4 separate regions of the Homo sapiens genome follow, and regions 2, 3 and 4 are each reported to be linked to region 1. Evidence: microRNA targets listed by miRTarBase, many of them from high-throughput screens and not tested one by one. Region 1 holds a microRNA gene; each other region holds the end of a gene's coding sequence.
What was found. The annotated mature microRNA hsa-miR-34b-5p reads UAGGCAGUGUCAUUAGCUGAUUG and lies in region 1 at 1,586-1,608, opposite strand. An mRNA with a match to its seed (bases 2 to 7 or 8) in the 3' UTR can be bound and repressed. Matches are read on the target gene's strand: a 7mer-m8 pairs with bases 2 to 8, a 7mer-A1 pairs with bases 2 to 7 and ends in A, and an 8mer does both.

Region 2: miRTarBase lists ZDHHC18 as a target of hsa-miR-34b-5p. Seed matches in the 3' UTR shown: 7mer-m8 at 229-235.
Region 3: the mRNA of TNFAIP2 is a reported target of hsa-miR-34b-5p. Seed matches in the 3' UTR shown: 7mer-A1 at 4,470-4,476 and 7mer-m8 at 2,704-2,710.
Region 4: miRTarBase lists CAV1 as a target of hsa-miR-34b-5p. Seed matches in the 3' UTR shown: 8mer at 2,129-2,136.

The regions. Positions count from the first base shown.
Region 1 is chr11:111,508,560-111,514,557 of GRCh38, reverse strand. MIR34B (microRNA 34b) reads right to left here and starts at 1,620; the gene lies at 1,537-1,620. It overlaps BTG4 (BTG anti-proliferation factor 4), which reads left to right and starts at 2,172. Exons shown (of 5, transcript NM_001367975.1): 1 at 2,172-2,377. MIR34BHG (MIR34B and MIR34C host gene) reads right to left here and starts at 3,956. Exons shown (of 2, transcript NR_147706.1): 1 at 3,686-3,956; 2 at 670-1,540. It overlaps MIR34C (microRNA 34c), which reads right to left and starts at 1,119; the gene lies at 1,043-1,119. RefSeq lists an enhancer at 3,317-4,516.
Region 2 is chr1:26,850,811-26,856,251 of GRCh38, reverse strand. ZDHHC18 (zDHHC palmitoyltransferase 18) reads right to left here. Exons shown (of 8, transcript NM_032283.3): 6 at 5,021-5,123; 7 at 3,387-3,499; 8 at 1-2,526. The coding sequence ends at 2,409. Among named protein-coding and RNA genes, the nearest start is that of SFN, 9.6 kb to the left of the region's middle. RefSeq lists silencers at 1,100-1,272, 2,845-2,904 and an enhancer at 2,519-3,020.
Region 3 is chr14:103,133,962-103,139,959 of GRCh38, reverse strand. It overlaps TNFAIP2 (TNF alpha induced protein 2), which reads right to left. Exons shown (of 12, transcript NM_006291.4): 12 at 2,521-4,741. The coding sequence ends at 4,600. It also overlaps the pseudogene NDUFB4P11. Among named protein-coding and RNA genes, the nearest start is that of TNFAIP2, 14 kb to the right of the region's middle. RefSeq lists an enhancer at 4,147-4,648.
Region 4 is chr7:116,555,957-116,561,784 of GRCh38, reverse strand. It overlaps CAV1 (caveolin 1), which reads right to left. Exons shown (of 3, transcript NM_001753.5): 3 at 606-2,839. The coding sequence ends at 2,498. Among named protein-coding and RNA genes, the nearest start is that of CAV1, 34 kb to the right of the region's middle.

The sequences.
Region 1 (5,998 bases):
ACTTTGGGTTGTGTCCTGTCGGAGTCAGTGGGGGAGTAGTTTAGCTTCTTATATCCTCAGTGGGCTGCCACATCCTCTCCCCTCCCCCCAGAAAGATAGCTAAATAAACTTTAAATTCCTCAGCCCCATTGCCCCAATCCCCACTTCCAAACCAGATTGCCAGGGACAGCACCTGCTAGGTGGAAGTTCTGAGAACGTTGCGCTGGAGAATTCACGCCTGAAAGCCTAGCCCTTGGGAGCTAGAGGCCTGAACTGGGCGGATACGTGCCCATGTGTACAGTTTCTGTGATTTTAAAATTCTGAATCCTTTAAATCTTAGGAAACAAGCTGGATTTAAAGTGTAAGTGCATTTACTAATCACTCCCACTAAAAGTTGCATAGACTCCAACAGTTGTAAATGATTACTTAAAAGAAGGGATACATCTTAATGAGTGAACAGAGTCTCTTCATGGAAAAAAGAAGTATGAAAAATTTTGTTAATGTATTTCTTATAAAAGTATTAACAAGTCTGTGTGTATGAGTAGCTTTCCCGGGAGATTTTTGTCATGGCAGGAACAACTTAACCACTTCATTGATAGAAAAGTTAAGATTACTGTGGCAGGAACTGAGATGGACATCATAAAGTCAATTTAGCAAAGGAAATGGACACATAGCAATAACCACAATTTATGTCTTTATGGCACTTTATTCTTTCGAAATATTACTAACAATATTACTTTCAAAATATTACTAACAATATAGTCTCAAGAAGTTAATAATCACATGTTCATATAATAACATACATCAGTCAGCTAAGAAAAAAATCATATTCCCCCTTATATCTAAAATTTTGGTTAAGAGCCTGAAGGAATATTGAAAAAAAAACAAAACAAAACCCCACATACATACACATTACATACATTGTAAACTTAGTAGCTGAAATGTTGATTTTTTTCTTTTGGCTGAGCAATTAATAGGCAATGGATGAAATCAGCATTTTCCAACACCCCTCTTCCCCACGCACATTGATGATGCACAGGCAGCTCATTTGGACGAATTCCCAAATCTTTTTACCTGGCCGTGTGGTTAGTGATTGGTACTATTAGCAATCAGCTAACTACACTGCCTAGTAACTAGACTCATAGAAAAAATTGCAGTCTCAAGTTGGTACCCCAACACGTTGTGACAGGCAGGCAATTCATTGGTTGAGTTGGAGCTCAACTGAGTTGCTAGCTTGGTGAATACTCTACTAGACGATGGCAAATAGACACAGTGAATCACAGCATACAGTATTAACCGTTACATGGATGGAGGGGCTTCACCTCCAGGGATTTTGCTTTCCTGGCATGAGACTGTTTCATCTTCTGTGACTCCTAGAGAGAGCTAACAGTTTAACTGTATCTGGAGAAACCGCGGGTTTCCTCGCACTTGCAGCGGGCGCTCGCGGGGCAGGCTGCGCAGGACCCACGCCGACGCCGCGCTTCTCAGGCATCTTCTCTCGAAGGCTGCGGGCTGCCCGAGCCGGCGTCTTCTTCCCGGCCGGGCGGCGGTGATGCTGTGCCTTGTTTTGATGGCAGTGGAGTTAGTGATTGTAACCACCACAGTACAATCAGCTAATGACACTGCCTACAAACCGAGCACCGGGCACCCGCGGCTGCAGCTCCCGGACGGTCCGCAGCGCCGACGCGGGGTCGGGGCCCGCCTCGGACCCCATTTCACCGGGGGACGCCCTACCATGGCTGGGCGCAAGCGGCCCCCGAGGACACCCCCGGGCCCAGCGGGACCCCCGCCGGCCTCGCAGCGCACAACACGCGTAGCTGGGCCAGCGGGCGGCGCTGCCGGGGAGGACCCGCGCCCTCCCAGGCCGGGAGCCGCGCCCCGACCCCCATGACCCCCAGGAGTGCCAGGCCTCCCCTTCCCGCAGCCTCCCGCTCCTCTCAGGGCCCTCCCGCTCAGGTTCCCCTCGCTTTTCCTTTCCCCTTCGCCTCCTCGGCCCGGGCTCCCACTTCCTTCACGCCAGGCTTCAGTTCCCAGCCCCAAACCCTAGAGCTGGCTCTCTCGACCCCGTGCGCCCCGCCGCTCTGAGCGGCCGAGTGACTGTGGCGGGGGCGACCAACCGTCCTTGGAACCCCGCGGGCCGAGGGGCGGGGCGGGCGCGAGACGGGGCGGGTGGGGGAGGGGATGGGGGGGGGGAGGAGGCTGAGAGAAAGCGCTGTGGGCGGTCCCTGAAGGGCCTCCAAGGGAGACGCCTAGAAGATGGAGGCCCAGATTCTTGAGACGTTTCTCTTTCTGATCTAGCAGGAGGGACAAAGAGCTCCTCCACTCCCTCATTCCCCAAGAAGGCCCCCAGCCTACCCAGTTTCCGTGACCATTCCGCCCTGGGAAAGCGGCTTCCCAGGTACCTCAAATTATAGGTTTGAATTTTCCAAATGGAGGTGGGCTTGGGTAGCCTCTGACATATGGGAGGATGGCTTGGAGAGTCTCATCTGCACCTCTGTGCTCTGTTGGGGACTTGGCCTTATACTCTTAGAGGGCCATGCAGTGATGTGAAGCCTGGGCCTTCTAGTCAAATAGTGAGCCAGGCAGCTTGTTAGTTACATCAAATCGTGGTCCTCTTGAGATCAAGGCCATACCATTCAAGACAGTATATATATAATAAATTACTAAACTAGGGACTATTTAGAATAGTAGAAACTATTTGTATCAGAAATAGAAGGGAGGTCCTCAATGAGAGCTGTAATAGGTCAAAGAAGGTTCCCAGAGGAGGTGAGACTTGAGTAGATCCTTGATGCACGAGTACATTTGGATATTCAGGGTTAGGGCTGTGGATGCCAGAAAAACAGTATCTTGTGACAGTTGGGCAAAAGGGACAGTTACAGAGGACTTCTGGGAGATCTCTGCTAATAACTTTCCTTCCCCTCCTTTGCCTTTAATGAATTAATCAGGAGAGGATAAGGAATGTTCTCTTTATCCTCACCTTGTGAAATTCAGCTGGAAGCAGCCTCCCCTAGAAATATGGTCTTCATGCATCCAGTATAGAGCACCCATTGCTGACACCAAAGGCTTAGTTCTAAATTAGTTTCTGCAAAAGAAAACTTCCCACCTATAGATTGATTCCCTAAAACCAGCAAATGGTCTCATAGATGCCACAAGTAACATGAACAGGGGCAGGTCATCTGGATCATTCAATACAAACTACAAACTCACACTATTAAAACAACTAAAGAACTGCCCAAGGATGTTTGAATAAGTTATAGCATTTTCTTTGCATATGAAAGACAGCACTTTTTTTCCAAATGCATACTTTGTTCTGTACACCCCATAGTGAAGGGAAAGAAACCAAAATACAAAATATGTAGCACAGAAAATGTTAATTGTAAAAATTAACTCGTAGAATTAAATTGTGAAAGACAAGCCATCTACAATAACTGTATTTTGTATTCATCTTATCTTTGTGAGGGGCACGGTGTTTTAGCACACATTACATAAATGACTCACATTCACCTAAATATACATACATGAAACTAGGAGCAAAATAGTCTTCATTCCATTAACAATATGCAGACTTAGAGAAATCTTGGTTAGGAGATAGTTATAAAAATGATTCTCTTCTACCAAATTGTTAGTCACTTTTACCCAATACTATATCGAACACTTCTTCCCAACTGATGTTTTATGATTATTAGTTGCATCTTAAATATCTTACCTGAGCTGGATTGCTGCCATCCAAGGCAATGGTTGGGTCAGATGCCTTGAAAAGTAGGTTTCTACAGACTTTTCTTCAAAAGTAATAAAAAATAAAACTCATATGTAAAAGTCATGAAGATGCATTGCCTACTGAAATAACTTTTTAAAATGAGTTTATTTTCTATGTAGTACAACTAAAAATTTAAATAACGACAAAAAATATGTGTGGCCTAGTTCTGTTGAAAAAAAAAAAAGAATGCTTGTTCTTAGGGTTGCTGTTGATTTGGCCTGCAGTTACTAGAGAAACTCCAAGGATCTCATTCCCTTTATGGTTCATGTCTAGGCATGCCTGGAGACCAGGGAGACCCATGATTTAATCTAAGTAAGAATGCTTGTGGTGTTTTAAATGCCCACACAGAGGATTGCATTTGTTTTAGACAGTACAAGGAAGGCACCTTTCAGGGGAATTGTTTACTGTTTTAATTTCTGGGCTTTTGGTGATTAGGGAGATGGAAAAGGAGCTATCAGGAGAGACAAGGTTGATGACTAGGAGGAAGCCAAGAAGAGTGTAGAAAACAAATACCTTCTGCTTTAGCTTTGGCACATTTATATTGACTTAATTTACCACTTCTAGATACAAGACTAGATTGATGGGAATTGGGAATTAGAAAAGGTGGAGACAGGCCGGGGGTTGTGGCTCACACCTGTAATCCCAGCACTTTGGGAGGTCAAGGCGGGCGGATCACGAGGTCAAGAGATAGAGACCATCCTGGCCAACATGGTGAAACCCTGTCTCTACTAAAAATACAAAAATCAGCTGGGCGTGGTGGTGCGCGCCTGTAGTTCCAGCTACTTGGAAGGCTGAGGTGGGAGAATAGCTTGAACCCGGGAGGCAGAGGTTGCAGTGAGCCGAGATCGTGCCACTGCACTCCAGCCTGGGTGACAGAGCAAGACTCCATCTCAAAAAAAAAAAAAAAAAAGAAAAAAGAAAAAAGAAAAAAAAAGATGGAGACAATTGGAGACAACATATCCCTCCCTTCAATACATACAAACTCACCATCTCCCACAGCTTTTGAAGGATGTTGTTGGAAGAGGAAGAAATGAAGAATTAGACTAATTAGAAATTACTGGATTTTAGCAGCTTCTTTATAAACCTGTTTTGTTTTTGTTTTTGTTTTTGTTTTTGTTTTTTTTTGAGATGGAGTTTTGCTCTTATTGCCCAAGCTGGAGTGCAGTGACGTGATCTTGGCTCACTGCAACCTCTGTCTCCTAGGTTCAAGCGATTCTTTTGCCTCATACTCCTGAGTAGCTGGGATTACAGGCGCCCACCACCATGCCTGGCTAATTTTTTGTATTTTTAGTAGAGATGGGGTTTCACTATGTTGGCCAGGCTGGTCTCGAACTCCTGACCTCAGGCGATCCACCGCACCCCCCTTGGCCTCTCACAGTGCTAGCATTACAGGAGTGAGCCACTGCACCTGGCCTAAACCTGTTTTTTTAAATGCATATTTACTCATAGGAAATATAAAACCATATCTTGGTTTATAGATCAATAAATGTCAGATTATTAAACTTCTTGATAGTATACCTAGAAACTAGTTTATATGTTGAAGCAAGACTAAATTGAAGTCAATTCAGTGCCTTTGAAGAACTAAAAATAATTGAATCTATTTATGGGAGAAGATTTTCTTTTGAGCTAAAATGAACTGCCAGCGGTTTTTATAATTCCATATTTCTAGTTTCATTTCATTGTACTCTCATTAGTAAGAGTGCACCAGATTCTTAATTAGCTTCTTGTTTATATTTATTGATTAATCAATACTGTTGCTTTCAGTATAAAATGTTAATTTATCTTTCAGGTAAATCATAAGCAGTCTAACAAAATAGTCTCTATAATTAAAGTTGCCGGAGCTCTTAGGTATGGCTTCAGTAGGAGCAAACAGGTTGCATATTTTCCATCTTTAGAGAACAATCTCTAAGGATTTATGTGGTCTAGTTGGTGAGATGGACAATGTGTGTATATATAGATAATTAATATGTTAATTATATTAGTATGTAATATGAATATATCTTAATATAACTTATAGTAATAGATTAAGAATTCATGTTTGTGTTATATATTCTATTTATATTATATATAATTATTTAATATCAAGATGGTTATATGAAAAAGTGCTTCAGGAATCCTGATGACTAATACAAACTTCATTATTGCCAACATTTAGGAAAAAGGAAAAGGAAAATTATCAAAGGTTAGGACACAGAGAAGGCTATATGGAAAAGATGAGCCTAGAAGCAAAAATACTAGAGATGAAGAGGGAATGTTTTGGTA
Region 2 (5,441 bases), not on the chromosome of region 1:
CTGCAAAGAGGCCTGTTAGCTCCCCTCAGGCTGTGCAGGAGATGGCAAAATCCTGACAGGTGTCCTCCTGAGGGAGATACCAGAGAGGTGGGCCAGTGTTATGAGTTGTCTGGCTGGGCCCTGGTGCCCAGGTTGGAGGTGGTAGCCAGGGAAGCTCCGGCTCTCAAACTGGAATCTACTGTCTCAAACATTTTCTTAGCTGGGCACTCATTGGGGATCGGAGTGGAAAGGCAGTAGGGAAGAAGAATTTGGGGGTCTCCAAGCCCCTGAGGCAGGGGAAGGTGGAGGGGACAAAGAGGGGACAGGATGGCCTCTTTTCACGTGCCCATGGGGGCTCAGCCGCAGCCCTCTCTGCTCTTCCTCCAGCGGACAGAGCTCCAGCCAGGTGAGGGAAAATGTAGCCAGATCACTGGGCTGCCTGCCTTCTCACAGTCTCCCCAGGAAAGAACCAAATTTGTCTGAAAGAACAGAGGGCTCCCAGTTGGGGCCTCAGCAAAGGAAAAGCAAACAAAAACCAAACCAAAGCAAAGCAACTCTTATAAACTGAAGTTTTATTACAAGCAGGAACAAAGAATACTGGCTTAAATAAAAGGTAGGTGGGAGCCCCCTCCTCTAGCCAGCTTCTTCCTCACCTCCCAGGGCCACTGCAGTGATGGCCCAGGGCCCTGAGGCTGGGGTGAAGCTGTTTCTCCCAGAGGGGACCCTCTGTGGCTGCCATTCCCAGCTGTCTGTGACCACTAGCCTCTGGAGTGAGAAGGGCAAGATCTGGGGACTTCCTATGTCACTTTCCAAGGGCTTCAGCCCACTTGAAGGGCCAAGGAGGGGGATGGTGGAACAATATCTATTTTGATAAGAAACTACAGCTCCCAGCAGAGGAGAAACATCCTCTGAGTTTCCGGCCCAGACTCAGGCCAACCTTCACTTGCCTCTTGGCCCACCCTGCACCTTCTTCCTTTTCTCTGGATGGAGGTCCCCGTTTGGCAGAAACACCTTGTCTTCCAGCTCCTGGCACTGGGTCCCATATTCAGAGCTCAGAGGAGGGGGTGTGGCTTGTAGGATGGCAGCCGCTCCCCAGAGCCATCACCCCACCCACCACGCCCAGGCTCAGCCTGTCTGGGCAGGTCCCAGCTGGAAGCCTCACCTGGGGGCTGGTGGGTAGGGCTGGGGGTAGAGTGGCAGAGTCCCCAGACACTGGCTGTCTGAAGTCCATAGAAGAAGGAAAGATAGGAGGCTGGGCTGAGCCCCAGTGGGAGCCCAGGGTTTTCTCGTGACCAGTGCACGTGCCCCCTGTCCCCTTGGCTCAGAGTGCTTCTGACACTCAAAGGGGATGGGGCAGGGGGCAGCCCAGGGGATATGGGAGCCAGCCACATTCATACAGGGCACACATGAACACACACACACATGCACACACACTCTCACTCATTCCAGCCAGAAGGTCTCTTGGAATAAACTTATTAAAACCAACCAGCCTTCTGATAACCCTTCACCTGGCACTACACAGACAGTAATGTGGCTGACATTTTCTCCTTCCATTTAAAAAAGACTATGTAGAAAAGAGGTCTATAAAATTGTGCAAAATACCCAGCATTAATAAACCCGTTTCAAGTATTGCCAGCATGAGCATAACCCACCCATGCCGGGACCTGGCTTGGGAGAGAAGTGGAGGGGCAGGCTGGGATCCCTTAAAGAGCTCTCCATGGGCAGGGGAAGGACCAGGCTCCCACTTCCACTGTGCTGCCCAGGAACTGCACAGGAGCTGAGGCTGTGGGTGCCTGGCTGGCTGATTTACCTTTGTCTGATACAGGCTGCCCCCACCCACCACCAACCCTGCCTTCTCTACTGGAGCCCCAACTCAATCCTATTGGCCAACTCCATAAAAAAGGGGGGAAAACCCCACCAAAAATCCCACAGAATAAAGGGAAATTATCACCAAGGGAATGAAGGAGCCCACAGACCAAAGCAGCCCATGGAGGCTTCCTCTCCACAGCCAGCTATCCAGAGCTGGCCACTCCTCAGTCCTGCTTCACCCTGAGGACCCTGGCTCAGCAAGGCCCAAGCAGTTCCCCCACCTGGGAGGCCTCACGCTCAGTTCACAGCCTCACTCACACAGGGCTCGCCCGGCACAGGCAAGGACTTGGTGTGGTCCCCTGGGTAGCCTCCAGAGGCTCTGGTCTCTCCTGGCACTGATCAGCTGGGGTACCTAGGGCCCAAGGCTGTGGGAACCTGGGTTTGGGGAGCAGAGGGCACAGCCACGGAACAGTTCAGGGAAAGCCACGCAGGATGGGAAATAAATATGAAAAGACTTGAGTCTTTGGCAGTTCTGCTTCCCTTGGATGGAATAGGGAGGGTCCCGGCAGGTGAGTGCGGAGGGTCAGACAGGCCAGCAGGTGGCAAGTACTGAGCCGTGGTCAGGGGTGGCCTCCTACCATGCTGGCATCAGGCTTGGCTCTGCAGGCTGGCTCATCGCTTCTGATGGGTGAGGGCAACACGGTGTCGGACTGCACAAATCCCCTCCGGTCAATTAGGCTTCCAAAACACAAGGGAGACACATGAGGGCTCTGCCCAACACTGAGGCTCTAGGCCAGGGGTTGGACGGCAGAGTCTATCTCAGCCAAGGAAAGGCCCAGGCTGAGAAAGGCTGAGGAAAGGAGAGCTGCTGCCCATCTGGGGGCCCAAGACTCTTACCTCTGGCAGGCCTCTCTCTGCCCTCTGGCCACCTGGCTTTTGGCCACAGAATTTATTCACTATTAATTCCAACTGGCCCACCTGTCTGGCTGCCAAGAAGCCAGGCTGCAGGTGAGGGAGGAAAGCAAGGATGAATAGGTATTTGATGACTATGAAATTCCTATGTTCCCTTCCCCTCTAGGCAGGCTGGGTGACAGGGATACTGGGTGGGGTAGGTGACATGACTGTGTGGGAATGACTTGTCTTAGCAGTACCCACAGCAATGTAATCCCCGTTCTGGAACTCTGGTGCCCCCTGGTGTCAGGATGAACAGGGAGTGACCCAGCAGGGCTGAGTCCCCAGGGTTCCTACTGCCAGGAGAGGATGGAGTCGCCACCCAGTCCAGGCAGTGGGCAACCGGAAGGGCAGTGTCATTCAAACATGGCTGAAACAGTCATGGTGGCTACCCCCGGGGAGTAGAATTACATGTCATATCCAATGCTCCTCTGTTTTACGTTTTGTACTTAATTTTTTTTTTCTACAATGAGCACGTGATTAAATAACAATTCTCCATGGAATTCCGTCACATGACAAATGCCCTCCAGGGGGTAGTGGACGGAGGGCATCTAGGGTGTAGGGGGAGGTCGGCTGATATCCAGGAACACTTTGATCACTGGCCAGGCATGGCCCTGTTACCCCTCTTCCGCACCCCGCTCACTTACCTGGGAGGTAGGGGGCCACAGAGCACAGCACAGCAGTTGGTGATAATACTTTTATGGCTGTAGGGGTTGACAGAGGCCTCACCGCCCCTCTTGCTGGACCACGAGCCTTTGATCTGCAAGCAGGAAGGAGGCCTAGGTCAAGTACCTCCTTTTGCTTCACTTTTCTAGGAGGCAGGTCTAGAGGCTGGGGACAACTGGACAATTCCGAAACCAATTCTGGTTACAGAAGGCGACATGTCTTTCATGTGGGCCATTCAATGAGAATGTGGGGGACCCCTGGCAGAGATCAGGAGGCCCCAAAGAGGAGATGACAGAGCAGAGCCCAAGAGAAGCATCCAGAGGAAACGTTTCGGATGACTCCTCCCTTCTCCGGCCAGCCACTTCTGAAGGAGGGTAGCGCAGGGGCACAGGGTGAGGGCTGACCTGCCTGTGAGCCCCGGCCCTGCTACTCACTGGCTACGTTACCTGGACAGATCACCACTTCGCTGAGCCTGAGTCCTCATTTGGAAAACAGGGAAAATAATACTAATTCTCAGATGACATTGCTAGGGCATTAGATTAATTCTTGCCAGATTCTCTAGCTCTGTGAAGTCAGCTATGGAAGGCACTGGAGAGTTTAGCAATAAAGAATACCTTGACTTTAACCTAGAGTTTTCTACACTTATTTGGCCACACACTCCTTTCTCTTTAACCTCTGGTAATGTGCTGCAGAACTGGCACCCAAGAAGCTACTGCGGGAGATACTGGCTGATGGCATTTCTGTTCTCACTGATCACCAGGCACACAACGCCCTGTCATGTGTGAAGTTTTGTTTCCCTGAATGAGAGGATGAGGTCTGGGAATGTATTTTCTGTTGGAGGATGGGTTGCTGGTAAGTATCAGATGGTGGGCCCTGAAACAGATGCTCTCATTTACTTTTTAGTGTTTGGAGGATGGGGAGGAGAAGTCAGGTCTGGCCTAGGACTGGGCACATCAAACATGCTTGTTGATGGCAGTCTGCAGGGTGGCAGGCAGGGAAGGTCAATGGAGCCCACTGGCCTGTGCCCTGTCTCCCCCAGGCGTGCATATTGAGAGGGGCAGCCAGGACAGGCCAGTGCCACCTTGAGAATAGTCACGGCTTTGCTGCTGACAGGGGCAGTGTGGAAGAGGGAGCGCATACCTGTGACTGGGCACCAACCTTGGCTCTGTCCCCTCCCAGCTGTGTGACCTCTCAGACATGGGACATGTCTCTCAGTCATCGAATGGGGAAAAAACATCCCTGTCCTTTCTGCCTCAGGCTTGGCAAAAGGACCCAAAGAAATGACGGGAACTGAAAGAATTCTGTAAGCGGTCATGTGCCAGCCAAACATCATGCGTGCTGTGGTGTGAGTACTGCCTCCTGCAGGGCTGTGGAGAAAAGCAACCTGGGACCTTGGGAGCCTGCACTGAGAGAATGAAGCATGTGGAGGTGTCAGAAGCCTGCATCGGACCCACCAGGGCCAAGCTGAGATGACTGGGAGGCATCTGGCTGCTTAAAAGGCATTATCCCAGCAGTCCGTGAGTCAGGACTGTGCTTGGCTGCCCCAGGCTCCCTCAGCCCTGCCTCCTCCTGAGGGCGCTGCCCTAGAATGAGGGGTGGCTCCAGGTTTACTCACGTCTTCATTAGTAGTCAGGTTGGAGGCGACGAGGTACGTGTGAAACCCTGAGAGGCCCAGAATGGACCAGATGGAGAAGAAGCAGATCACCAACTCCAGCACGGTGAGGGCAGTTAAGGACTTCAATGGGTGGAGGGTGGGGAGCCTCCCAGCCACACCTGGCCTGTCTCACCTATCCTTCCATGGAGCTGTTTCCCCAGAGAGCTGAGAAGTTTTGGAACCTTCCTGTGGCCCAGTCCCCACTTCTTAGCAGGATCACCTCCTGGGCCCCTCGGAAGGGTCAGGACCCCACTCAAGAGCCAGACAAGGTCAGGGTGATGGACGGCAGAGAAAACTGAGGGTTCCAATCACAAAGAGCCTTGGGCACGACACGGTCCAGGGAGCTTGGCATCTTAAGGGACATACTCTTTTCCAGGCCCCT
Region 3 (5,998 bases), not on the chromosome of region 1:
TCCACAGAGAGCTCCCAAGAGTGAGTTTCTGGGAGTGAGTCTGAAGTTGAGATAAACCTTTGCTGATCTTGCTTACGTTCAATGCATCTGGGCAGCGTCTTTGATGAGCCCTGGCGGTTAGGCTGGTGGCACTGAAGCAGGCCTCCAGGGTCTCCTGTTTAAGCAGGATTTTAAGGCCAACCCTGCGGCTTGCGCCTGCTGGGTTTCTGGAGATGTGTCATATTCGGCTGGGTTGAGGGTCCAGGGCAGAGTGGCCAGGCATGAGAGAAAATACTTTGGGTCAACACCTGTGAAAAGAAGGAAAAAATAAAAATAAAAAAAACACCAGAAGAATACTTTGGGAACAACATCGTGGTGACACAGGGCACAACTGCGAGTGCGGAGGGACCTCTCCCCCTGAACTTGACCAAGCGCTTCCTCAGCCCTTTCTCCCCTCCCAGGCCCTCCCTGTCCCTGGAAGCAGCCTGGTTCCCTCCCGGTCTCTTAGAAGCCCCTGGGCTGCTCTTTCCCTCAGCCCACCGAGAGCTCGCTCCATCTCACTGCACGAGGGGGCCCTCGCTGCCGCCCTCATCTCTCCCCTGGGGACCCCAGCGCCCCCGAAGGGCAGAGGGGTCTTTCCAAGCCATAAATCCCATGAGTTGAAACTCGCGTCTCCAGCCCCTTCCAGCCCCGCTCCCCAGCTGGAAGGAGCCCACTTACCGGCCCCCTCCTTCCTCCTGCGGAGTCTCCTGTCCAGGATCCCTTTTCCCCAGTCCTGCCGTCTTTCTTTGCCTGAAACCTGGAATTCCTCCCCGTTCCCGCCCGCCGGCCTCCGCAACCTCCTCCCTCCCCCGCAGCGCCCAGCCCGGGTCTGCTCCAGGCACCTCCTCAAGACCGGGCCTCCAGCGACTGTCCCTTTGAGCCGCCCTTTCACCCGCAGGCACCCCCGGCCCGTCCCCGCGCCTGCACTCAAGCTGCTTGTTTGCTTGCTCCTGGCTCCTGCAGGGAGCGTCAGCCCCCGGGCTGCTTCCCACTGCTGGAGGCCGGGGGCGCCCGGTGTTCCGCGGGGGCTGCGGCCTCCCCGCTCCACCCCTGCTCACAGGAGCCTGGGCAGCCCGGGGCCCGTCCTTGCACAAAGGCACCAGGCCTGGCCCAGGCCCCGCTCCGCCCGCCCTGTCCCCGCGCTGGGGGACTCGCTCCCCTCCGCCGGGCAGATCCTCCTCTCCGGGGGATTTTCCTGGAGAAGTTACTGGTGCAGATCCAACAGCTGGCGGGACAGTGACCCGGAAGGCCCCCGCCCCGAAAAGCAGGAACAGCAGGAACCTCCAAGGCGCCGCCCGCACCCTCTTCCTCCTCGCCTGGGGCCTCGCGCCCGGAGCCCGCCCCTCTGCCAGGGGTGGACGCAGCCCGGGGAGGGGGGTCCACCTGGCCCCAGGTCCCGCCGCGCTCCGACGACTCGGCCCGCCCTGGCCGCCGCGAGGCTGGGGGTCACTTTGGGACCTAAGTCCGCCCCCGTGGGAGAATGTGTGCCAGGGCCCACTGACAGCTTCCATCGGGGCTCAGGCGCCATCTCTCCCCACGTTTGCCCAGGGTCAGGGGGCCATGCAGGGGAGAGTCGCGCTGCCCCCACTTCCCCCTGACCCTGTGCTCCGAGGAGAGGAACGGGAACTCGCCCGCCCAAGGCCCACGCTCCCCACGTGGCTCAACCAGGCCAGGACCTCGCAGCCACATGGACCGGCGGGTCCAGGAGCCGGGCAGAGGGTCTCCGTGCCAAGCCGCACTGCCCCTGGCCCTCGTCTCCCTCCTTTCTCTCACTGCACGGTGGCCTCATGCCATCCGCTTTGGCCCCAAGAATGGAACTCAGGAGAAAGGGCCTGCCCTCCCCCACCCCCAGCTCCGGGCTGTCCCAGGCCCTGCTGAAGCCCACACCCCTCTTCAGGTGCACACGGCTCCCCTTGGGGCCCTCCCCGGCCTCTGTGCAACGTTCATCAAGGTACCCTTCTTCCCTTCCAGGGACTCTGCTCCTTCCCAAATTCCAGGCCAGATTGGCTGCGGAGAGGCCCACCCTTCCGTGGCAGCTGAGCCCGTCTCTGAATACAAACCAGACCTCCTGTGTCCACAGCTGTAGCTTTCAGGTCAATGCCAGCATGGTAAGAGTCAGTTCCCACTCTGTGTCCCGTGCATGCGGTTGAAATGGCTGCCCCGTGTCCACCCCACCCTCTTCCTCAGTAAAGGACGGTGGAGGAAGCCCCAAAGGGTCACAGTCCCCTTTTTACAGATGAGGAAACTGAGGCACGGAAGGGTGAAGTGACTGTCCATGCCCTACAGGCAGACACTTCCAAAGCTCCTGCTCACAGTGAGGGGATGGTGGGCCATCTCCTGCCTGGACCACATGAGGTGCTCTGGGGGCTGGGACAGGCTGGGGATTGACACAGAACCTAGGTAGGTTTGCCCGGACCCCTAGAGGCTCAGAAAGCTGCTAAGGCTGCCTGGCTGGGCCCCCCATCATTGTGCAGCTCCCAAAATAAATCACTCCACAGCCACTTTTGAATTCTGTTTTATATCAAGCTATAAAAACCTGGATCCTGTTCAACATACATACAAAAGCAGTACTCTAAAAAATAATTATTATTATATTAACAATATCAAACACGCTAACTCCTACACACGTACAAAGACCTTGGGCATCCTTTATACCGGCCACTTCCTGGCCACAGCTTTGTAAGGCAGTACCTGGGAAAAGGGGACGGACCCAAGAGAGCCGGCCCCAAATCCTGACTCAGCACTGCAGAGGCATCAGCCGGGCTGAGTCATGCCTGAGTCCGAAGGGCCCCCTCTCAGGCTGAGAAGGAACTTTCAGGCCCAGGGAGGAGCAGAGCCTTAGGGGGAGCACATGCCGAGCAGGAAAACGAGCTCACATTTTCCTGGGGTAGAGCGAGGTGCCCGGCAGGGCAGGGGATGAACGGAGGGTGCGGTGGGCAGAATAACGGCCTCCCAAAGATGTCCACGTGACAGTCCCCAGAGCCTGTGACTATGTTAGGTTACACAGCCAGTGGGAACTAAAGTTGCAGATGGAACTAAGGTGGCTAATCAGCTGACCTGAAAATAGAAAGACGACCTGGGTTCTCTGGGTAGGCGCAATGTGATCATAAGCGTCCTTAAAAGCGGTAGAGCAGGCCGGGTACAGTGACTCATGCCTATAATCCCAGCACTTTAGGAGGCTAAGGCTACAAGATCCCTTGAGCCCAGGAGTTCCAGACAAGCCTAGGCAACAGAATGAGACCCTGTATCCACAAAAAATATGTAGCTGGGCGTGGGGGATTGTCTCAGGGGACTGAGACAAGAGGATCACTTGAACCAGGAGGTCCAGGCTGCAGTGAGCCTTGATGCCATGACCAGGCCACTGCACTCCAGCCTGGGCAACACAGCAAGACCCTGTCTCAAAAAAAAAAAAAAAAAAGTGGTGGAGGGAGGCAGGAGAGGGGAGGCCTCAATGAGGTGACGGGAAAAAGATTCAACTACCCACAGCTGGCTCTGAAGATGGAGGAGCCTGAAGTCAAGAATTACGGTCAGCCTCTAAAAATGAAAAGGCCAGAAATGAATTCTCCCCTAGAGCCTCCAGAAGGAGTGCAGGACTGCCGACACCCAGATTTGAGCCCCGGGTCAGCCTTCTGACCCGCAGAACTGGAAGACCTCGTTTTGATCCACGAAGTTTGTGGAAACCTGTCACGGCAATAGGAAACAAATACAGAGGCCAAAGGGTCAACAGTGAGAGGTCAAGCTTGCCCTGCCCCTGCCCAGACCTCAGCCAGACTTCTGGGTGGCAGGGCCCACGGTGGCACCCCCAGGGCCTGTCCCTGCCTTGGGGAAGGGGGAGCCTGAGAGGACCCAGGAGGTCTTGGGCCCTTCGGTAGTAGACACCAAGCCCTCGGGGGACCACCCTCTAGTTGAGGCCTTGGGGGATGAAGAGGGAGGGCTCAGGGCCCCATTGCAGGGCCAGCCTGTAGGGGCCGTGGGGCCACCTGGATGTGACGTCTAATGCTGGCGGTGCTCACAGCTCGCCACAGGACCCTAAAAGCCCCTGCCAGACGAGAGCTCATCTTTTCCTTCTTTCTCTTCCAGTTCTGTCTTCCATTCCACCATTGCTGAATCCCGCTCACGGCGGCCCTGGGCTGCAGAGGGCAGATGGGTGAGGCTCGGCCCCTGTCTCCAGAGAGCTGAAGAGGGCCCTCGGCCCCACCCACGAGGAGGACAGTCATGAGGCCGACTGTGGAGGGGCTCTGGACAGAGGTGTCCGGGGATCCCTGAGCCTGGCTGCACTCTCCCTCCTGGTTCTTTCCTTGCGTGCACACGATCAGCTATCGTTTACAAAGAGTCCTTGGTGTTGCCTGGTTGGCTGCCCAGGATGGGAGCTCCTGCCCCCATCGGACATGTAAACAAACCAAGGTCTGTCCAGTTCCAGCTGACAGGGCCTGCACCTCCGCCAGGGCTAGGCAGAAGTAGCATCAGAGCACAGGAGACCCGGGAGGAACCGAGAACCAGCGCTGCTCTTAACAGCTCCCAGCGGGGTGTGCCCAAGGCTTGCTGGGCACTCACAGGCAGGTCAGGCCACAGGAAAAGCTAACCAACCTTTATAAGGGAAAATAGGGGCCGGGAGGGCTCCTGCGCCCCCATGCTGACGTCCAAGATGCTCCGGATGCGCTTGACCTCACTGTTGGATAGGTTCCCCTTGATGGCCAGGATAGCGCTCAGGTGGCCTTTGCTGGCAAAGAGAGCATCCTGTCAGCCCAGCCTGTCACCCACACCCCTACTCACCAGCTCCCTGCACTCCCGGCCAGTGCCACAGGGCCCGACAGCCAACGCCCGGCCCACGAGGGGGCTGCACTTCACTCTCCCTCACCCATGCCCTCCACCTGATGGTCCCAAGAGCAGCCATGCCCCAGCCTGCTTCAGGCCTCCGCACCGGCTGTTCCCCTGCAATGTTCTTCCCAGGCCCTGAGATGACCGCCTCTTCCCACCCCTTAGGTCTCCGCTAAGATGTCCACCCCCAAAAGGCTTTCTTGTCTCTAAAGTCGGCACCTCCTATCATTCACAACCTTGGTTAAACCCTATTTACAACTTGTAATTGTCTGTTTCTTTGCCTGATTATGTCATTAGTATTGCTGGCCCTCAACAGAATGAGCTACTTAAGGGAGGACTGAGACCTGGCTTCCCTTGTACTTCATTGCATCCTGGTAACTAGAACAGAGGCTGACACCTAGCAGACTTCTCCATAATTGTTGGTGGCATAGGTAGATGGATGGTGGGTGGGTGAGCAGATGGATGAGAGCTAGATGGGTGGAGGGATGGGAGCATGGATGAGTGAGTAGATGCATGGGTGGATGGGTGGGTGGGTGAGTGGTTGAGTGGATGGATAGCTAAATGGGTGGAGGGGTGGATGGATGAGTAGATGGGTGGATGGGTGCTTACATGGGTAGGTGGATGAATAGATGGATGGATAGACGGGTGGGTGGGTGGGTGGGTGGATGGGTAGACAGGTGATGAGTGGGTGAGAAGATAGACGGATAGCCAGATGGGTGAAGGAATGGGTGGATGAGCAGATGGGTGCTTGTATGGTGGGTGAATGAATGAATGGGTGGAATGGATCAGACAGGGACTGGACTTGGCGAAGCTGGGGTCAACCCTGTCAAGACCCATTCAAACTTACCCTAACATGTCAGAGGACCCAGCCCAGGAAGAAACAATGTCCCTGGCCCACCAGAACTTCAGGCAGCCAAGGGCTAAGCCTCCACTCCCGAATATGAGCCCTGGTCCCAGAGCATAGGCCTAGGCCGCAGAGGCCCCCCAGGCTGGGTGAAGCTGGCCTCTCTGGTCTCAGTCTCCCCTGTGAGAGGCAGTGTCAGGTAAAGCTAAGAGTGTGGGCCATGCAGCCAGACACTAACTAGCCGTGTCACCTTGGACACATCCTGTGAGCTCTCCAGGCCTCCTCTGTGAAACGGGAATGGGAAGTATTGTCCTC
Region 4 (5,828 bases), not on the chromosome of region 1:
ATTCTATCTATCTATGTATCTATCATCTATCTATCATCTATCTATCATCTGTCTATCTATCTATCTATCTATCATCTATCTATCTATCATCTATCATCTATCTATCTATCTCCAACTATCTCCTATTGGTTTTGTTTCTCTGGAGAACCCTAATATAGGAGTCCTGAAGGTAAACTTAGCCAAGCAACAAACATAAATTGAGACTGCAATATACCTCTTTAAAACCCAGTTAAGGCATGGCAAAGTTGAAGGCATTGGCCCCGAATGCAAATTGTGTCTTTCGCTAAGTTAAGAGTATTAATATCCATCACACAAGCTTGCTGGGGGCTCAAATTAGATGACATATAAAACATTGGGCAAATTGCTAAAAAAACTTTGTTATTAATTATAACTTTTATCTGAAGCAACTCATAAATGGTGATGACCTTAGCAGAAATATCCTAAGTGACTTTGTAATAATTTTAAAGTGGGAGACCATTACCCCCCACAAACACATACAAACACATACACACACTATGCACATGCTCATTACATACAAATACATAGACATACACAGACTCTGACACATAAACACCTGTTTTGGGAAAAAATAATAAAGCTGACTGTTTAACCGTTAAACATTTTTATTGTGCAGGCTTGTAACCTTTACAGGACATGCATGATAAAAAATTGTAAAATATATCAGTAAGCATATAAAATTTCAGCAATCTTTTGGACCAGTAATTGATTTGCATGAGGGACTAAGCATCTATGTAGAACAGACATGTCTTGGAATACACAGTTTACAGATTGAATCACAAAGCCATTTCCTAAGTGATTTTCTTCATATAAAGATAAAAATATCTTTACATTTAAAAAGTATGCAGTATAGCACATTTTCAGTTATGTACACAGTTTAAAAGTAAAACTATATCCATGCCAGTGTCTGTTTTAAATGCAAAAAGTCAAAGTAGGTAACAGGTTGGTAATTAAAGTGTCAGGAAGACTGGAAGAGGCAAAAATCAAGCAGAGTTCCAATAAGTGTATGAAAAAAAAATCATAACTGAAGGTTTAAGAAAAGTCCCCAAAGGCAGAATCACAATATGAGCAGGAGGAATAAAAAGCTTTTGGATATACCAGGCAGCTTTCTGTACGACTCAGGTTTACAGGTGAAATTCCTCAGTTTGAGTTCAGAAGAATTTGAACTTATTCCAGCAAAATACTTCAATCTTTTTATTACTGCCTCCTCCCCCATCTTCTTTCTGGGCAAAGGGATGCTTGGATTAGGTCCAAAGCTCCTGGCAGGGGGAGGGGCCATGTGTCACAGCATAACAGACGGTTGCAAGTGCTTTACTGAGCAGGGGTCAGGTTTGCAGCAACTCTGATAGGCTCACACAATGGCCTCCATTTTACAGCCCCTCCTTGGAGGCCCACTGATCAGCTGAAATGGGAACACAATGTTGAGCCACTAAACCACCCCGGTGATGGATTAGTTTGGATTCAGGAAAGCGTGATTATTCTTGAAAATAAACGAAGCTGAATAGACATGCTGACCTCATTCAGTTGATGAGAGGCAGGGAAAGCTGGCTTCCAGGACTGCCAGCCCACAGAGAGCTCAGCCCTATTGGTCCACTTTAATTCATTTCATTGGGCTAGTGTCAACCATACCCACTACGGATAAAGATGTTGCCAGATGAAGCCCAGAAGTGAGCTTCACCAGACTCTGTAGCTCAGAGTCAGAAACACGCATGGAAAACTAGGTCATGGATATTCTAATTTTGGTCTTCAGGGAGGCTGCTGACCTAAAGCGAGTTGCTGAGTTAGACCCTATTTGAAAAGGAAAATGTGAAAAACAGGAAGGCACTGAGGTCTTGTTATCTACATAACAAATATTCAGGCACAGAAAATATCATAGGTTAAAATTTCAAGAAGAGTAAGGCATTAGTTGGATCATGAGAAGGCAGAAGATTATGTTTTCTAACTTGTAAGGATCACTGGATCCTACTGGATTATGAAGTGAATGGCAGTAATCCACTAACTCCTTAAACAGTGGGAAAAGAGTTTGCTGAAAATCTGCCCACATACTTGTACACTCCATGGCCATACCCTGGAATTCTTCCCTTAACATAAAATGACCAACATTTTGGAGTAGGCAGTTGAGGTTGTTGGTTCTTTTCTTTTTTTTTTTTTTCCTCCTCAGTTCTTCATATTTCTCTCAAATTACCTTTCAACAATATGTTCATATCTCAGCCAATAAAGCGATGGTTGATCCACATGCAAATAAAAAGGTAAGGAAAAAAATTTAAATGGGTTTTAAAAATTCAGACTGCCAAAAATAGATGAAATAGCTCAGAAGAGACATAATACTTATGAAAACTGAGAAAGTGATCTTTTTATTTTCAACCAAGATAATTCAATTCATAAATTGTTGCTGTATTAGCAACTTGGAACTTGAAATTGGCACCAGGAAAATTAAAAGGAAAAAAAATCAGGTATACTTCTATCCTTGAAATGTCATTTATATTTCTTTCTGCAAGTTGATGCGGACATTGCTGAATATTTTCCCAACAGCTTCAAAGAGTGGGTCACAGACGGTGTGGACGTAGATGGAATAGACACGGCTGATGCACTGAATCTCAATCAGGAAGCTCTTAATGCATGGTACAACTGCCCAGATGTGCAGGAAAGAGAGAATGGCGAAGTAAATGCCCCAGATGAGTGCCATCGGGATGCCAAAGAGGGCAGACAGCAAGCGGTAAAACCAGTATTTCGTCACAGTGAAGGTGGTGAAGCTGGCCTTCCAAATGCCGTCAAAACTGTGTGTCCCTTCTGGTTCTGCAATCACATCTTCAAAGTCAATCTAAAAGGAAGAAGTGACACAACATGAGCACAGAATAGAAGAAAAGAGAAAAAAAACCCACTATTCAGTATCCATAGACATATACTGTATTAGCATTTATGAGTTCGTTCTTTGTGAGATGCTTAAAGGCAACCAGCAGCATCAGCATCACTTGGAACTTGGGAACACAGATTTTTTTCATTTTTATTTTTTTGAGACAGGGTCTTGCTCTGTCACCCAGGCTGGAGTGCAGTGGCATGATCATGGCTCACTGCAGCTTCGACTTCCCAGGCTCAAGCAATCTGTCTGCCTCAGCCTCTTAAGTAGCTGGGACCACAGGTTCATGCCACCACACTTGGCTAATCCTTTTTTTTTTTTTTTTTAAGAGATGGAGTCTCACGATATTGCCCAGGCTGGTCTTGAACGCCTGAGATCAAGGAATCCACCCACCTTGGCCTTCTGAGGAGTTGGTATAATAGGATGAGCCAATAAGCTGACCTGAAACACAGATATTTGGGTTCCCCTTGGACCTTATTATCTCTCAAGGGTGGAACCCAGGATATTTTTAAACATGTTCTCTAGGTGTTTCTCTACCACACAAAAGGTTGAGAACTACAGCTCTAGAGAAAACCAAATGGATGTGATTAAATTTCTTGACTTAAAGTAAAACCCCCAAACATGGATAAGGATACGAGGCACTCAGTACAATGTAAGGAACATGACATAATTTAACTGCCTTTGAAGACAACTACACATGCAATGTTAAGGGGCAGTTAGTTGATAATCGGTTAACAATTCTTCAAATGCCCAATTAGCATAATTACTTCAGGAAATTAGATCATGGTGTGCTGGGAGGCATCAAGAAGGCTTCATGAGGTGGGAGATTTGAGCAGGGCTTGGGCAATTGGCTGATTTGGAGAGGAAGAACAATGGGACGTTGGAAATGTGTCAAAGCCCCAGGAACAAGCAAGGGTGTCATAGTAAGTGTCTCAGGCAGAATAGACCTGTGTCACCGAGGCTGGAAAGACAGGTTGAGGCCAGACTGAATATTATTTTACAGACAGTGGGGTCTATGGAAGATGTGGGAGCAGGGGAGTGTAGCCACAATCGATGCAGTAGTTTATCAAGATGAGTTTGACAACCGTATGCACACTGGGAGAAGGAGGAAAGAGACTCAAGGCAGGGAGACTGTTGCTGTCACTCAAGTTTGAAGGGCCAGGACTGGAAAGGTGGTCATAAAAAAAAGAAAAGAAAAGAAGGTTCCAGAGATGCTAAGGGAAGAATCCACAGGACTTGGTTAGCTCAAGGGTGGGGATGAAAGGAGCTGGAATGCAAATTTGGCCCCTTTCCCAATAGCTCTCCCAGGTACATGTTCACCCAAACAATTAATTACAGGAAGTTTTATCCCTCTGTAAAGATTTATATAAACTACACTGAAGCACAGGATTAAAAACAGAATTACCAACAGAAAGGTAGGACAGAGCCAGTGCAACTGCTTGGCAGTGACAGCTATAGGAGGGGATTTAATGCAGTTTGAAATCCCAACAAGTGGATGACTGACAGCAGCGACTCAGGCAGGCTCAGGATTAGGGAATGAGGACTGCCATGACTCCACGGAGCTACTCAGTGCCAAAGAGCCACCTTTGATTCAACAAAATAAAATGTCTTCTGGAAAAAGCACATGATGCTTACCAATTTTTAAAGTTTATTTTGTAGAACATTCTGTTTCTTGACTTATTGTCCAATGTTCTAATAATGTAATGTGAAAAAAACGGCATGGCCACAATTATGTAAGTGAGCTTAAGTAGATGTATTGTCACTCATTTTTCTTCACCCATTTGGATCTAGACACAGGGTAAACATTTAGTTGTGTGTTTTAAAAGGTGGCAAATACATGGCAAATCAGGTCAATACTTTTATGAAGTTTCTGTGCAAATTATTTGTCTATTATGGGTTTGTGTTCTGACACTGCATTCTTCCCAAAACTATCAAAAATAAGGGGCTCTGGTTTTCCTGCATTCAACTGCAAGACACCTAAAGAATTTTATTTTTTAAAGATGTCTTTGTTTTGTAAGAGGATTTGAAGGCAGAATTAAAATACTACAGCAGGTGTTCTTAATCTGGGGTCAAAAGATGGGCAATGGTCATCCATGACTGCCCTGAAATGGACACACATTTTGAGTGTATAATGGGAAATGATCCATCACCTTTATTAAAAAATAGTCTATTACCAAAGAAGGTTAGGAAGCAATTTACCGGGAGCAGAGGATTCCTACCTCTTTACAGAGCAGACCCGAAGCAGGTCTGCCTTGAGATTCTTTTCCTAGGAGGGGAAGAGTTGTGAACATTTGTTGACTAGTTGTGATCAGACACTGTTCTCATTTAACTGACAACAACTCTATAATATAGTATTCTCACTTTATAGAAAAAATGTGAGGTTCAGAAATGCTAATGAGTTGTCCAGGTAAAAGAGAGGTAGATTTGAGGCTTAAATCTGGTCTGAAAGTTATCAACTTTCTTCAATATTGTACCACTTTACAAAAATGGTTTTCAAATTTTATCTAAGGTGAGTATGCTATTTCATAATTAAAAGGCACGTTAATAAAAAAGAGTTTGCCAAATTTAACCCTCTGGTAACTGCAACAATTCTCCCGGCATGTTCTTTGAGGACAGTGTTACACCATATACACAATTGGTCCTTAGTGAAGATATTTAAAAACATGAGTGTGTAAGATTTCTTAATAATAATTCTATTTTTCTAAGCATAAATTCAAATTATTTTTCAATGAATACATAGGAGATTCTTACACTTTCTTTTAAGTTGCTTACTAAATTTCTGGATGCCTGCATTTTCAGTGAAACTGCATTTTCAGAAACTGCTAGTGAGCATGATTTATCCTCAAACGTCCAAGTGAATTTAGAGCAGGTCTCCAGGGGTGGAAAGCAACATGACAAAAATAACATGTTATATAAATATATTCAGTTAGTTATTGCTGCTTTAGTCTTTGAA